Homo sapiens: one gene and its partners. The protein of the gene in region 2 interacts with the protein of the main gene of each other region in a pairwise test. Each region holds a gene or a part of one and is shown on either strand. Other genes may lie near its edges.

What was found. Proteins that work in one complex are often made in the same cells at the same time.
Region 1: the proteins of SYK (region 2) and TRAIP interact in a two-hybrid assay, tested with the Homo sapiens proteins (one study listed by BioGRID).
Region 3: the proteins of SYK (region 2) and DYNC1I1 interact in binary tests that used the Homo sapiens proteins (3 or more experiments, as listed by UniProt).
Region 4: the proteins of SYK (region 2) and CANX interact in binary tests that used the Homo sapiens proteins (3 or more experiments, as listed by UniProt).

Annotation. Positions count from the first base shown.
Region 1 is NC_000003.12:49,850,065-49,853,564, reverse strand, and holds part of TRAIP (E3 ubiquitin-protein ligase TRAIP), read left to right. Parts: intron 1-3,500. UniProt on the Homo sapiens protein: E3 ubiquitin ligase required to protect genome stability in response to replication stress.
Region 2 is NC_000009.12:90,895,524-90,899,299, forward strand, and holds the end of SYK (tyrosine-protein kinase SYK), read left to right. Parts: intron 1-4; coding exon 5-77; 3' UTR 78-3,026; downstream 3,027-3,776. UniProt on the Homo sapiens protein: Non-receptor tyrosine kinase which mediates signal transduction downstream of a variety of transmembrane receptors including classical immunoreceptors like the B-cell receptor (BCR).
Region 3 is NC_000007.14:95,779,054-95,782,553, forward strand, and holds part of DYNC1I1 (cytoplasmic dynein 1 intermediate chain 1), read left to right. Parts: intron 1-3,500. UniProt on the Homo sapiens protein: Acts as one of several non-catalytic accessory components of the cytoplasmic dynein 1 complex that are thought to be involved in linking dynein to cargos and to adapter proteins that regulate dynein function.
Region 4 is NC_000005.10:179,701,967-179,705,466, reverse strand, and holds part of CANX (calnexin isoform d precursor), read right to left. Parts: intron 1-3,500. UniProt on the Homo sapiens protein: Calcium-binding protein that interacts with newly synthesized monoglucosylated glycoproteins in the endoplasmic reticulum. It may act in assisting protein assembly and/or in the retention within the ER of unassembled protein subunits.

The DNA.
Region 1 (3,500 bases), on a different chromosome or scaffold from region 2:
CTATCTTGTCTAATTTAAAGTCCATTTTATCTGCTATTAGTATAGCCACTTCAGCTGTCTTTTGGTGACTGCATGGTATATCTTTTTTCATCTGTTTTATTTTATTTTATTTTATTATTGTTTTTAGAGACAAGGTCTCGCTATGTTAGCCAGGCTGGTCTCAAACTCCTGGCCTAAAGCAATCCTCCTGCCTTGGCCTTCCAAAGTGCTGGGAATACAGGTGTGAGCCACCACACTCGGCCCTTATCCAACTTCTAGCTTCCGTTGTAGCTATTGAAGTCAGATTTTAGTTTATCAGTTACTCCTTTAAGCATACTTTGGAACTTTATCCTCAGACTCTCATTACCTTTAGAATTTTCTCTGATTTTGGCTTTCTGCAGTTTTGGTATAGTGTATCCAATATGAATTTCTTTTTACCTTTTTCTTTTCTTTTTTTTTTTTTTGAGACAGAGTCTTGCTCTGTTGCCCAGGCTGGAGCACAGTGGGACAATCTCAACTCACTGCAACCTCCACCTCCCTGGTTCAAGCAATTCTCCTGCCTCAGCCTCCCGAGTAGCTGGGACTAAAGGCACGTGTCATCATGCCCGGCTAAATTTTGTACTTGTAGCAGAGACAGGGTTTCACCATGTTGGCCAGGCTGGTCTCGAACTCCTGACCTCAGGTGATCTTCCCACCTTGGTCTCCCAAAGTGCCGGGATTACAGCCATGAGCCATTGTGCCTGGCCGAATTTCTTTTTACAAATTCTGCTCGGGATTCATTAGATTTCTTTAACGTGTAGAGCAATTTCTTTCTTTCTTTCTTTTTTTTTTGAGACGGAGTCTCGCTGTGTCACCCAGGCTGGAGTGCAGTGGCACGATCTTGGCTCACTGCAAGCTCTGCCTCCCGGGTTCACGCCATTCTCCTGCCTCAGCCTCCCGAGTAGCTGGGACTACAGGCGCCTGCCACCATGCCCAGCTAATTTTTTGTATTTTTAGTAGAGATGGGGTTTCACTGTGTTAGTCAGGATGGTCTTGATCTCCTGACCTCATGATCTGCCTGCCTCGGCCTCCCAAAGTGCTGGGATTACAGGCGTGAGCCACCGCGCCTGGCCGTGTGGAGCAATTTCTTTAATCAGTTCTGGAAAATTATCAGCCATTATCTCTTCATATATTGCCTCTATTCCATTAACTTTTTTATCCTGTGTTATTATTTATTTTTGAGGTAGAGTCTCGCTCTGTCACCCAGGCTGGAGTGCAATGGTCCGATCTCGGCTCACTGCAACCTCCACCTCCTGGGTTCAAGCAATTCTCCTGCGTCAACCTCCCGAGTAGCTGGGATTACAGGCGCTCGCCACCGTGCCTGGCTAATTTTTGTATTTTTAGTAGAGACGGGGTTTCACCATGTTGGCCAGGCTGGTCTTGAACTCCTGACCTCGTGATCTGCCCGCCTCGGCCTCCCAAAGTGCTGGGATTACAGGCGTGAGCCACTGCACCTGGCCTACCTAAAGTCTTTGTGGGCATTTCTTCTGGTTTGTTTTCATAGTGCTTTTTTTTCTTGTGTACCTGTTTACTTAAAAAAATGTTTTTTTGGCTGGGCGCGGTGGCTCACAACTGTAATCCCAGCACTTTGGGAGGCCGAGGCTGGTGGATCACGAGGTCAGGAGATCGAGACCATCCTGGCTAACATGGTGAAACCCCGTCTTTACTAAAAATACAAAAAAATTAGCCGGGCATGGTGGCGGGCGCCTCTAGTCCCAGCTACTTGGAAGGCTGAGGCAGGAGAATCGCTTGAACTCAGGAGGTGGAGGTTGCAGTGAGCCGAGATTGCACCACTGCACTCCCGCCTGGGTGACAGAGCGAGACTCAGTCTTAAAAAAAAAAAAAAGTGTTTTTTTGGCTAGGCATGATGGCTCACCCCTTTAATCCCAGCACTTTGGGAGGTGGCTGGATTGCTTGAGCCCAGGGGTCCAAGACCAGTCTGGGCAACACAGTGACACCCCATCTCTACAAAAAAGTGAAAAAAATATAAATTACCTGGGCATGATGGCCTGTGCCTGCAGTCCCAACTACTTGCAAGGCTGAGGCAGGAGGATCGCTTGAGCCTGGGAGGTTGAGGCTGCAGTGACTCATGATTGTGCTGCTGCACTCCAGCCTGGATGACAGAGTGAGACCCCATTTCAAAAAAAGAACATTTTAAAATTGAAGTATAATATAGTTCAGAAAAGTACACATATTCTAAGTATATGGCTTACAGAATGTTTACAAATTGAACATATCTATGCAGCCAGAATTCAGATCAAGAAACAGGGTATGGCTGGGCGTGTTGATTCACGCCTGTGATCCCAGCACTTTGGGAGGCTGAGGTAGGCAGATTGCTTGAGCCCAGAAGTTCTAGAACAGCCTGAGCAACATGATGAAATCTCTACTAAAAACACAGAAAATTAGCCGAGCATAGTGGCATGTGCCTGTGGTCCCAGCTACCCAGGATGCTGAGGTGATCATCACCTGAGCCTGGGAGGTAGAGTCAGCTGTGAGCCATGATTGCTTTACTGCATTCCAGCCTGGGTGACAGAGTGAGACCCTGTCTCGAAAGTCCCCCCACCAAAAAAAAAAAAGAAAACAGGAAAACGCAGGCTATTGGCCGGGCATGGTGGCTCATGCCTGTAATCCCAGCATTTTGGGAGTCCGAGGCGGGTGGATCAGGAGTTTGAGAGCAGCCTGGCCAACATGGTGAAACCCTGTCTCTACTAAAAAAATATAAAAATGAGCTGGGCATGGTGGCGTGCACCCGTAACCCCAGCTACTCGGGAGGCTGAGGCAGGAGAATTGCTTGAACCTGGGAGGTGGAGGTTGCAGTGAGCCGAGATCGTGCCACTGAACTCCAGCCTGGCTGACAGAGCAAGACTCTGTCTCAAAAAAAAAAAAAAAAAAAAAATGCAGACTATTATCAGCTCTAGAAACCTTCTAGAAACCTCCTTATATGCTCTTCCAACCCCTACCAACACCTCCCTCCACCTCCCCATATTAAGATAGCTACTGTCTTGACTTTGAGAGCATAGATGAATTTTGCCTACTTTTTTTTTTTTTGAGACAGAGTCTCACTATGTCCCTCACGCTGGAGTGCAGTGGCGTGATCTCGGCTCACTGCAACCTCCACCTCCCAGGTTCAAACGATTCTTCTGCCTTAGTCTCCCAAGTAGCTGGGATTACAGGCGTGCGCCACCACACCCGGCTAATTTTTCTATTTTTAGTAGAGACGGGGTTTCACCATGTTGGTCAGGCTGGTCTCAAACTTCTGACCTGATGATCCACCCGCCTCGACCTCCCAAAGTGCTGGGATTACAGACGTGAGCCACTGGGCCTGGCCTGCCTACTTTTAAACTGTGTAAATAGAATCATACAAAATATAACTTTTTGTATCTGGCTTCTCTTCCTCAGTGTTATGTTTTTGTGATTTATTCATAATATTGTTCTTAGCTGTAGACTCATTTATTCTTGCTGTGTAGTATTCCACTGCGCCT
Region 2 (3,776 bases):
CCAGTGTGGAAAACAGGCCCGGATTCGCAGCAGTGGAACTGCGGCTGCGCAATTACTACTATGACGTGGTGAACTAACCGCTCCCGCACCTGTCGGTGGCTGCCTTTGATCACAGGAGCAATCACAGGAAAATGTATCCAGAGGAATTGATTGTCAGCCACCTCCCTCTGCCAGTCGGGAGAGCCAGGCTTGGATGGAACATGCCCACAACTTGTCACCCAAAGCCTGTCCCAGGACTCACCCTCCACAAAGCAAAGGCAGTCCCGGGAGAAAAGACGGATGGCAGGATCCAAGGGGCTAGCTGGATTTGTTTGTTTTCTTGTCTGTGTGATTTTCATACAGGTTATTTTTACGATCTGTTTCCAAATCCCTTTCATGTCTTTCCACTTCTCTGGGTCCCGGGGTGCATTTGTTACTCATCGGGCCCAGGGACATTGCAGAGTGGCCTAGAGCACTCTCACCCCAAGCGGCCTTTTCCAAATGCCCAAGGATGCCTTAGCATGTGACTCCTGAAGGGAAGGCAAAGGCAGAGGAATTTGGCTGCTTCTACGGCCATGAGACTGATCCCTGGCCACTGAAAAGCTTTCCTGACAATAAAAATGTTTTGAGGCTTTAAAAAGAAAATCAAGTTTGACCAGTGCAGTTTCTAAGCATGTAGCCAGTTAAGGAAAGAAAGAAAGAAAAAAAAAAAAGGCCTGGATACTGCTTTTGCTGTCTCTGTTATGAGATGGAAGACTTACATGTTTGTGATAAAAGGGGACCATGAGAATGAATTGGCTTGGCTTACTTTCCCCCTGAAATCCTCTCTCCTGCAGACTGTCTTGAAGACCTGGTGACTGGTAAATAAAGCCCTGCATGGAGGCTGCACAGCAGGGGCAAGAGGCCCATCCCCCAGCATCTCACTGAGGACAGCTTCAGGCTGCCTTCCTCTGAACGTGGTCCACACCTTCCTCTCCTCCACAGAGAGGGTGCCGCCAGAATCCCCTGTCGCTTTCTGTGTCTGCAATGGGGGGCAGCACAGGGATCAAAGCCATCTAAAGAGTTTCCAAAGAAAGTATTAATTCAGAACAAGCCAAAGACCCTGAGCCTCACCACAAACAGGCCTTTTGGAGTGTGAATTTGAGTTGAAGATACAAGATCGGAGAATGATTTTCTGGTCTTAACTAATCCTCATCTTCATGTTTGATCTTTAAGAAGTCATCACCCATTGATTTCAGTTTTGCTGTACCTCTTGAAAGTTAAAGAGACATCTCAGCACTTTAGGAGGCCGAGGCGGGTGGATCACTTGAGGTAAGGAGTTTGAGACTAGCCTGGCCAATATGGTAAAACCCCATCTCTACTAAAAATACAAAAATTAGCCGGGCATGGTGGCATGTGTCTGTAGTCCCAGCTACTCGGGAGGCTGAGGCAGGAGAATCGCTTGAACCCAGGAAACGGAGGTCGCAGTGAGCCAAGATCATGCCACTGCACTCCAGCTTGGGCATCACAGCGAGACTCTGTCAAAACAAACAAACAAAAAAACAACTTAAAGAGGTAATTTAGCCATCATTCTTATGCCAGCAGATATAAATAAACTTGGACCCATCTGGTCTTCAGCTAAACCTGAGACATTTTAAAGTGCATGGACAGCCATGGACAGCAGGCCCTCCTCTAACAGGGGATGCAAGGCATGGAGAAAGACAATCAGTACCCAAGCTCAGCCACAGAAGACAGGAGTCACTCATATAACTTGTGTTTAGAAGTTTTTGGTAGCCACGCACACTTTCTGAAATCACACTATCTGGTGGTTTAATCATATTTTTAAAGACAGAATCCCTGAGTGCTGAGCAGATTCTCAAAACACATTTAGAATCCCTGAAATTAGAAAGATCAATGACAAAATATCTGTCAGCCAGGCCACAAACAGGTGTAAAATTATGAAAGGAGTGGTTGGATGTGCCAAGTTTGGTAAAGTGGTGACTGCATCTGAGAAAGAGGCTGTGAGGCTGAACTCTTGGTGGCTTCCTTCTGTAACTTCCAGAGGGAGTCTTCAACACAGGCCCCGTGCTCGTAGGAATACGGTAGCACCTATGTAGGAAGTGCGTGGAGTTTTCTGTCTTCTTTCTGTGTGATTTTTGGCCTTTTTATCAGCACTTCTCCCCTCCCAGGAGCCTGGGGATGCCAAACATCCAGAATGTGATGGGACAAGATGGGGGCAGGGGCCTCACCTCCCTGCAGAGGTCCGGCCAGGTCTCCTTGTCCCTGGACAATCTCCTGAGCCTCTCTGCTTGGTGGAGCAGGCACCTGTGTGCAGAATTCCCACTGTGGCCAGCACGAGGAAGTCTTTTCTAGTGAAAATGTGTCTTGTGGTCAGGAATAATTATCCTTTCCCCTGTAGCCACCAAGGAGGGCAAATAGAGAAAGGTAACCTAATTGAAGGATTGGTCATGTGAAAAGGGCTACATTTGGGAAGCTGGGAAAGGCCTCCAGGCTTCTAGAGCAGCTAGCTTGGGCTGGATTCTCATACCCAGGCTGCCCCTTGGATTGTTCTACCCAAGCTTTTCCCTGGGGTCTGGGCTCACTCCATAAGGTAAGGTGCCTTTTACCTTATGGTCCTTCTTTAGCAGGTAACAAAGGAGCATCAGGGGCAGGCTGCCCTGGTGGCATCACACTGGCTAGTGAGGCCGTGAATATCTTGTCCCCCAGCAGGGCCGACAGTTTCTATCACAGAAAACAGTGTGTTCAGTGGTGAAAATCGTTGCATGCATGTTTTCATCTGAGCGTGTCCTTCTCCCATACTCCCTATCAGCCAGCCCTGCCTGTAGCTGCTGTATGGTGATTGCACTTGGACATCAGTCCAATGACTGCAAGTCGGCCTGGATTTTCACTTGCAGAGGCTACAGCTGCATTGTCAGGTCTCCCAGCCCTGCAGAGAGCTCCCTCCACTGGTTAGCAGTGTGTTGTGTTTTCCATTCATTTCAGAAGAGCTACATTGTGTCACTGGACATTTTTAAAAACTGTGATTTTTAATAAAAATTTAAAATTTGCTTTGTGATGATTTTCATGGAAGTTATTAGGATGTGGTAAGTCACACTGTCAAATAGTGTCAAGCAGCATTGTCAAAGGGGTAGCTAAATGTTTTCTAAAACATTAAGTCCCTGCCATGTCCCAAAAAAGTGAATGTGTTGGCCGGGTGCAGTGGCTCATGCCTGTAATCCCAGCAGTTTGGGAGCCCAAGGCAGGAGGATCTCTTGAGCCCAGAGTTTGAGACCAGCCTGGACAACATAGTAAGACTTTAGCTCTGCAGAAATCAAAACATTAGCCGGGTGTGGTGGTATGCACCTGTAGTCCCAGCTACTTGGGAGGCTGGGGCAGGAAGATTGCTTGAGCCTGGGAGGTCGAGGCTGAAATGAGCTGTGATGGCACCACTGCACTCCCAGCTGGGTGACAGAGCAAGATCCTATCTCAAAAAAAAAAGTGGATGTGCACAGGTCAAAGTTGACTGTGAGATTCCACCACACAGAACGGCGGGGAGGCCCATCAGGGAGGGCCCTGTCCTGCCCTGCCTCTATCTTTTATTCATGAGCAGAGCATCTACCCAGCCAGGGCCTGACAGCCCATGGCCTGCCTAATAAAAGACAGACTGAGGAGACCCAGAAATCCCCCATCAGGCCAAAGCAGGGCTGTGGGTTTTGAGCTATCCCTTTCTCTATGAAGACAGCCTAAAAGGAACTGCGGTAGGCAAAGAAAGGATTCCAGAGCCCCAATTTCTGCCTGTTCTAAGGAGGTTACACACA
Region 3 (3,500 bases), on a different chromosome or scaffold from region 2:
CTCAATTGGGGAAAAGGGCTGGCATCTAGTGGGTAGAGGTTGGGACTGCTGCTGAACATGCCACAAAGCACAAGACAGCTTCCACAACAAAGAATTATCTGACCCAAAATGTCAATGATGCCGAAATTATGAAACTCTGCTTTAGAAGTTCTAGTTTTCTCATTGAAATCTTCCCTGTTTAAATAATTTAAGTCAATTTTTTTGTCTTTACAAGATAGTAAAAAGCACAACATCTAAGAGCATCTAGGAGGCATGATAAAGTAATGAGAAGAAGAGATCAGATATCCCACTTACTGACTGTGTGAGCCTCAGTTTCTTCGTCTGTAAAATGGGGAAAATGATGCCTGGCTTGCAAAGTTATTGTGAGGATTGCAGACAATCAGTGTACAGGCCCCAGTCATGGTACATGCTAAATACCATAATTCTTTTTACGATCAAACAGCAATTATGTCACTCTCTAGTTTATCTGGGATGTGTGTGATCTTGCCTTCCTTTGAACCAAAGGTATGCTTTGTTTTTTTATAACAAAAAATTGTCTTGATTTGAATTTACTCATTGACGTTCGTATTTCTCCTAGACTTTAGGCTCCTTCAGACATCATTGTGTCTTCCAGCAGAGAACCTTACTCATGGTGAATACTCAACAAGCTTTTGTTGACCTGAAATATTAGCCAGAATAAATCCTACTTAATTTTCCTTTTCTTATAAGACTGAGTTCTTTTTCCCCTTGGAGCATTTTAATGTGTTTAGTAAAAACATTCACTTCCTGAAATGTAGCGCCCATTTTGTGTCTGTGCCCAAGATGAATGTGTGCTTGGTAATACCTAGAATCCTGGAAGTCTTGCTTTCCTGAATCAGGATCATGCAGAGCATTTCTGCTGGGGGAAGGGGAGTCTTGAGGAGGACAATATTTCATTGAAGAAATGACGGGCAGCATGGTTTGAATCTGGTGTTTTCCTTTTTGAACCCCTTAGGCTAATCCTTTTCGTCTGGCTTTGGTCTGACACTGTCCGATGAGCAGTCCAGTACATTGGCTTCTTTCTGGTAGAAGGGACATTTTGATTCCTTACCAGGTTTATATTTTATTCTAATGTCCAAAGTGAAGCGAAGTAATGAGTATATTTTCATTGAATAAATGAAATATTCATTCATTCTAATGAATAAATGATGACACAATGTTATACATCCTTTGCCTACAATCACTTAATCACTTCCCCCACTTTTTTTTTTTCCTTTTGAGACGGAGTCTCTGTCGCCCAGGCTGGAGTGCAGTGGCATGATCTTGGCTCACTGCAAGCTCTGCCTCCAGGGTTCATGCTATTCTCCTGCCTCAGCCTCCCGAGTAGCTGGGACTACAGGCGCCCACCACCACACCCGGCTAATTTTTTTTTTTTTTTTTGTATTTTTAGTAGAGACGGGGTTTCACCATGTTAGCCAGGATGGTCTCGATCTCCTGACCTCGTGATCCGCCTGCCTCAGCCTCCCAAAGTGCTGGGATTACAGGTGTGAGCCACCACGCCCGGCCTCACTTTCCCTTTTAGAATACATGCTAGATTGTTTACTCTGACCTGAAATAGTACCCATTTCTTTGTCAAGATGAAGACTTCACTAATTGTAATGGAAAGAAGTCCTCTCTTTCTGAATGCAGTTTTAGATCCTACAGCACACCATGTGGAAGTCTTTAAATGTTTATCAAGTTGTTGAATGTTAAAATGAGCCTGAGTGCAGGGGATGACCCTGAGACTCTGTCTCAGAACCAACTTGTGGAATGTCAGTTGGTGGGTTTGGATGATGGAAAAGGAAGCAGGCCCTGTGGGGAATGTGTGTTTTGACACAATGTTCCCTTTTAAAACGACCGTGCGTCTACTGTTTCACCATCTGCCCGTTAGTATCAATATAGCAAGAGGTTGTGGGAATTGGTGTGTATTTTGTGGAAGAAAGAATAACAACAACAAAAAAAAAAACCTTCTCTGCCGGCTTCCTTGAAAAGTGTGACTTTGTTCACTTTCAGAAGGTATAGGTTACAGCTGATTTGGAAAGAGGATCCTCCCTCTTTGAATGCCTTCAGGCTCAGAGGAAAATGAGAATCTATTTGGGTAAGTTAAAAATGCCAAACTAAATCTCCCAATGCAAATATGGACCACCCAGGGACACTGTAAAAGGCCAGATTTGGGGTTTTGAATATTTACACATTTTCTTGCCTCCTATTTTAAGCTTTTTAATATTTGTCAAATGCTGCTGAAAAGTAATTGGCATATCAAGCAAGGGTGAAATCCCATATCTTATGCCAGAGAATTTAAAGCCAGGGGAACTGTGCTCATTTTCCTTGAGTATCCCTTGTTTTTAAAAATGAAGAAATGTGAGTTCAAAAAATTCTAAGACAATAAATTAGAGACCTTAAAGTAGATAGAAAAGTTGGTTACAAAACTATTGTCGAGGAGGAGGAAGATATACTATCTTTGAGTGCTCCCTTTCCCTGGTATAGTCTGCCCTGACTGAGCCATTTTTCTCAGTAAATTGGGCAAAAGTTCATTTTTGACGATGGGTCAGGGTACTGGAAACATCACCCTATAACACTGTCAACACCACCGCTACCTTCCCAAATGCTGGAAAGGCAGATCTGGGCAGCACATGGAAAAAGTGTTTTCTAAACTTCCTGGAGGAAAATACAGAAAGTTGCTTTAACCAGGGCACATGCTCTGGAGACTGTGTGGTTAATAATGACATTTAGTACTTTCTTATTCTTTACACCCTCCTCACGGGGCATTCCATAGCACTTTAAGATGGGGATGGTAAAGGAGGGGTGCTTGAAGATGTCAACGCTGTCAGGGAAGGTGAAAAGTAACCAGAATTCCGACTCATTGGAGTGAATTTGATCAGGCTAGGCTGTGTCATGATGCAACAAAAAATAACTGCCAACCTCAGTGGACCAACACAACAAAAAAATTTTCTTGGCCACGTTACATGTCCAGTGTGGGTCAACAAGGGTCTGTGTTCACCATGTTCACTCAGAGGCCCATGCTGCATGAGGCTTCCTCTTGATATATACTTTTACAATCCCTGTGGTAAATTGCATACTGCATATTAAACCTCCTGGAAGTGACATATGACACCTCTACTCATGTTTCATGAGCCAAAAGCAGTTGTGTGGCCATTCCTGACTACAGTGGCATCCTTAAGTGTAGTCCTATGGGAAGGGAACTGGAATTTTCGTAATAAACTCAAATGACTATGGAAGGGAAGGACTTCCATGAAGTCTGCCTATTCCTGCTAATAACTACAGTCTCTATGGGGCACCCCTAGGGACACTGACTGATATGTAACCACATATGTAGTGGTTTCAGCCACCAACTCTACAAGTTAATTGGGAGAGTTCCCTGAGCCATTTGTGGGACTTGCAATAGAGGTGTTGCTCATTTGCTCAGCCACTGCATGCTCAAACCCTGTATGGGATGGGGAGCATGCAGACAGGCAGGTGCAGGAGCCAGAATGAGCACTTTT
Region 4 (3,500 bases), on a different chromosome or scaffold from region 2:
AATAAAACTGAAACATACACAACATCCTCATATAGAGAGGATTGGTTACACAGATGTGGGGCATTCAAATACAATTTCCAACAAACTTTTGCATTTGTAAAGTGCTTTACAACAGACAAAAGCCCTTTCATACACTAATTTACAGGGGGTACCCGTTAAAACATTACAATGAAATAACAGAGATGGCCGGGCGCCGTGGCTCACGCCTGTAATCCCAGCACTTTGGGAGGCCGAGGCAGGTGGCTCACTAGGTCAGGAGTTCACAACCAGCCTGGCCAACATGGCGAAACTCTTCTCTACTAAAAATACAAAAATTAGCTGGGAGCGATAGCGGGCGCCTGTAGTCTCAGCTACTTGGGAGGCTGAGTCAGGAGAACTGCTTGAACCCAGGAGGTGGAGGTTGCAGTGAGCACGCCACTACACTCTAGCCTGCGTGACAGAGCAAGAGTTCGTCTCAAAAAAAAAAATTAACACAGAAGATAATTCCTCTCATATTAAGGCTTAATATGGATACGGTTGCTCAAATATCATCAATAGACATGTTTTCAAATTAGCGTTTTAGAACTCAAAAAGAATATTAAACTAAGAACAAGCTACTTTTTAAAATTTATATATTTTATTTATTTATTTTGTGATGGATTCTCCCTCTGTCGCCCAGGCTGGAGTGCAGTGGCACCATCTCAGCTCACTGCAACCGCCGCCTCCCAGGTTCAAGTAATTCTCCCACCTCAGCCTCTTGAGTAGCTGTGATTACAGGCACCCACCACCATGCCCGGCTAATTTTTGTACTTTTAGTATAGACAGGGTTTCGCCATGTTGGCCAGGCTGGTCTCGAACTCCTGACCTCAGGTGATCCACCTGCCTCAGCCTCCCAAAGTGCTGGGATTACAGGCGTGAGCCACTGCACCTGGCCAAAACAAGCTCCTTTTTTTTTTTTTTCCTGAGATGAGTCTTGCTCTATCGCCAGGCTGGGATGCATTGGCACTATCTTGGCTCACTGCAACCTCCGCCTCCTGGGTTCAAGTGATTCTCCTACCTCAGCCTCCCAAGTAGGTGGGATGACAGGTGTGCACCACCACATCCAGCTAATTTTTGTTATTTTTAATAGAGACAGGGTTTCACCGTGTTGGCCAGGATAGTCTCAATCTCTTGACGTCGTGATCTGCCCGCCTCGGCCTTCCAAAGTGCTGGGATTACAGGAGTGAGCCACCGCACCCGGCTTATCTCTTCTTTTCTAACCACGTAAGCGCCCTGTGTATTATATTAGATGTGTCTTGGGGTAGTGGCTCTCTTTCCACGGAGGACCACAGATCTAAAGAAATAAAAACTGAGCTACACAGATGCACAAGATGATGTGGTTGGTAGCAGGTAAATTTTCATTTTTGGGCTTGAGAAAGTACAGGTACAAGGTGGGGGAGAAAACAAGTAGAAGATACACAACTAAAAATGTGTGCGCACACACACACAAGATGTCCTTTTCTCCTCACATCCTCTGCCCACACAGTCACCCAATCAATCATAGTCTTTCACTCTTCTCCATTACTGACATCAGGATACTTAATGTTACCTTATATTACCAGGGCCTCTAGTTTCCTCCTCCTCTTTCAAGCTATCCTACAAGAAGACTCATCACCCAAAAACTATCATGAGTCCATGTTTGCAAAAATTTCTAAGTCTTTTAGCTAGTAATCAGCACCCTCTCCCTCTATAGCTGCTCTACATGCTATTCCCCCAGGAATCTTCAACTTCCTCTATTAAGACCTTATTTCCCAGCCTGGCCAACATAAACATAGCCTGACCCTGTCTATACAAAAAAAAAAAAAAATTATCCTGTCTCTACAAAAAATCAAAAAAAGAAAAATTTAGCCAGGTATGGTAGCACACACCTGTTGTCCCAGATACTAAGAAGGCTAAGGTAGGAGAAGCCTGAGTCTGACAGGTTGAAGCTAAGTGAGTCGTTGGGCAGGGTGGGGTGGCTCACGCCTGTAATCCTAGCACGTTGGGAGGCTGGTAGACTGCCTGAGCTCAGGAGACCAGCCAGGGAAACATGATGAAACTCCGTTTCTACTAAAATACAAAAAATTAGCCGAGTGTGGTGGCGCACACCTGTAGCCGCAGCTACTCAGGAGGCTGAGGGAGGAGAATCGCTTGAACCTGGGAGGCGGAGGATGCAGTGACCCGAGATGGCGCCACTGCACTCCAGCCTGGGCCACAGAGACTCCACCTCAAAAAAAAAAAAAAGACTCCACCACTCCACCAGGCGCGGTGGCTCACGCCAATAATCCCAGCACATTGGGAGTCCAAGGCAGGCAGATCATCTGAGGTCAGGAATTCGAGACCAGCCTGGCCAACATGGCAAAACCCTGTCTCTACTAAAAATACAAAAATTAGCTGGGCAGGCTGGGCGTGGTGGCTCACACCTGTAATCACAGCACTTTGGGAGGCCGAGGCAGGTGGATCACCTGAGTTCGGGAGTTCAAGACCAGCCTGACCACCACGGAGAAACCCTGTCTCTACTAAAAACACAAAATTAGCTGGGTGTGGTGGCAGATGCCTGTAATCCCAGTTACTCAGGAGGCTGAGGCAGGAGAATAGCTTGAACCCGGGAAGTGGAGTTTGCAGTGTGAGTTGAAATCACGCCACTGCACTGCAGCCTGGCCAACAAGAGTGAGACTGTCTCAAAAAAATAAAAAATAAAGTGAGCTGTAATGGCACCACTGCATTCAAGCCTGGGCAACAGAGTAAGACTGCCTTAAACAAACAAACAAACAAACAGAAAAAGAAGGCAGAGTTTCAGAGATATTTGCAGACCCGTGTTCATAGCAGTACTACTCACAACAGCCAACAGTCAGAAGCAACCCAAGTGTCCATCAATGGATGAATGATTAAACCATATGTGGCATAGGCATACAATGGAATACTATTCAATCTCAAAAAGGAAGGAAATCCCATCACCGGCTATAACATGGATGAACTTTGAAGACAATATGGTAAGTAAAATAAGCAATTCACAAACAGATACCACAAAGTTTTAAAAAAGAAGGAAGGAAGGAAAGGAGGGAGGGAGGGAGGGAAGAAGGGAGAGAAAGAAAGCTGAGCTTAATTTCTGGTCTCCTGGTTGGCATCGTGGCTCGCGCGTGTAATCCCAGAACTCTGGGAGTTGGAGGAAGCAGGATGATCGCTTGAGCTCAGGAGTTCGAGACCAGCCTGGGCAACAAAGCGAAGTATCTATGAAAAATTAGGAAAAAAAAAAAAATTAGCTGAGTGTAGCGTCATCCGCCTGTGGATCCAGCTACTCAGGAGACTGAGGCAGGAAGATCACTTGAACCAATAACAGCAGGAGTTTGAGACTGCAGTGAGCAATAACCACGCCACTGCACTCCAGCCTGATGAAGAGCAAGACCCTGTCTCTAAAAAAATAAGTAAGGCTGAGCGCGGTGGCTCACACCTGTAATCCCAGCACTTTGGGAGGCCGAGGTGGGCGGACTGCCTGAGCTCAG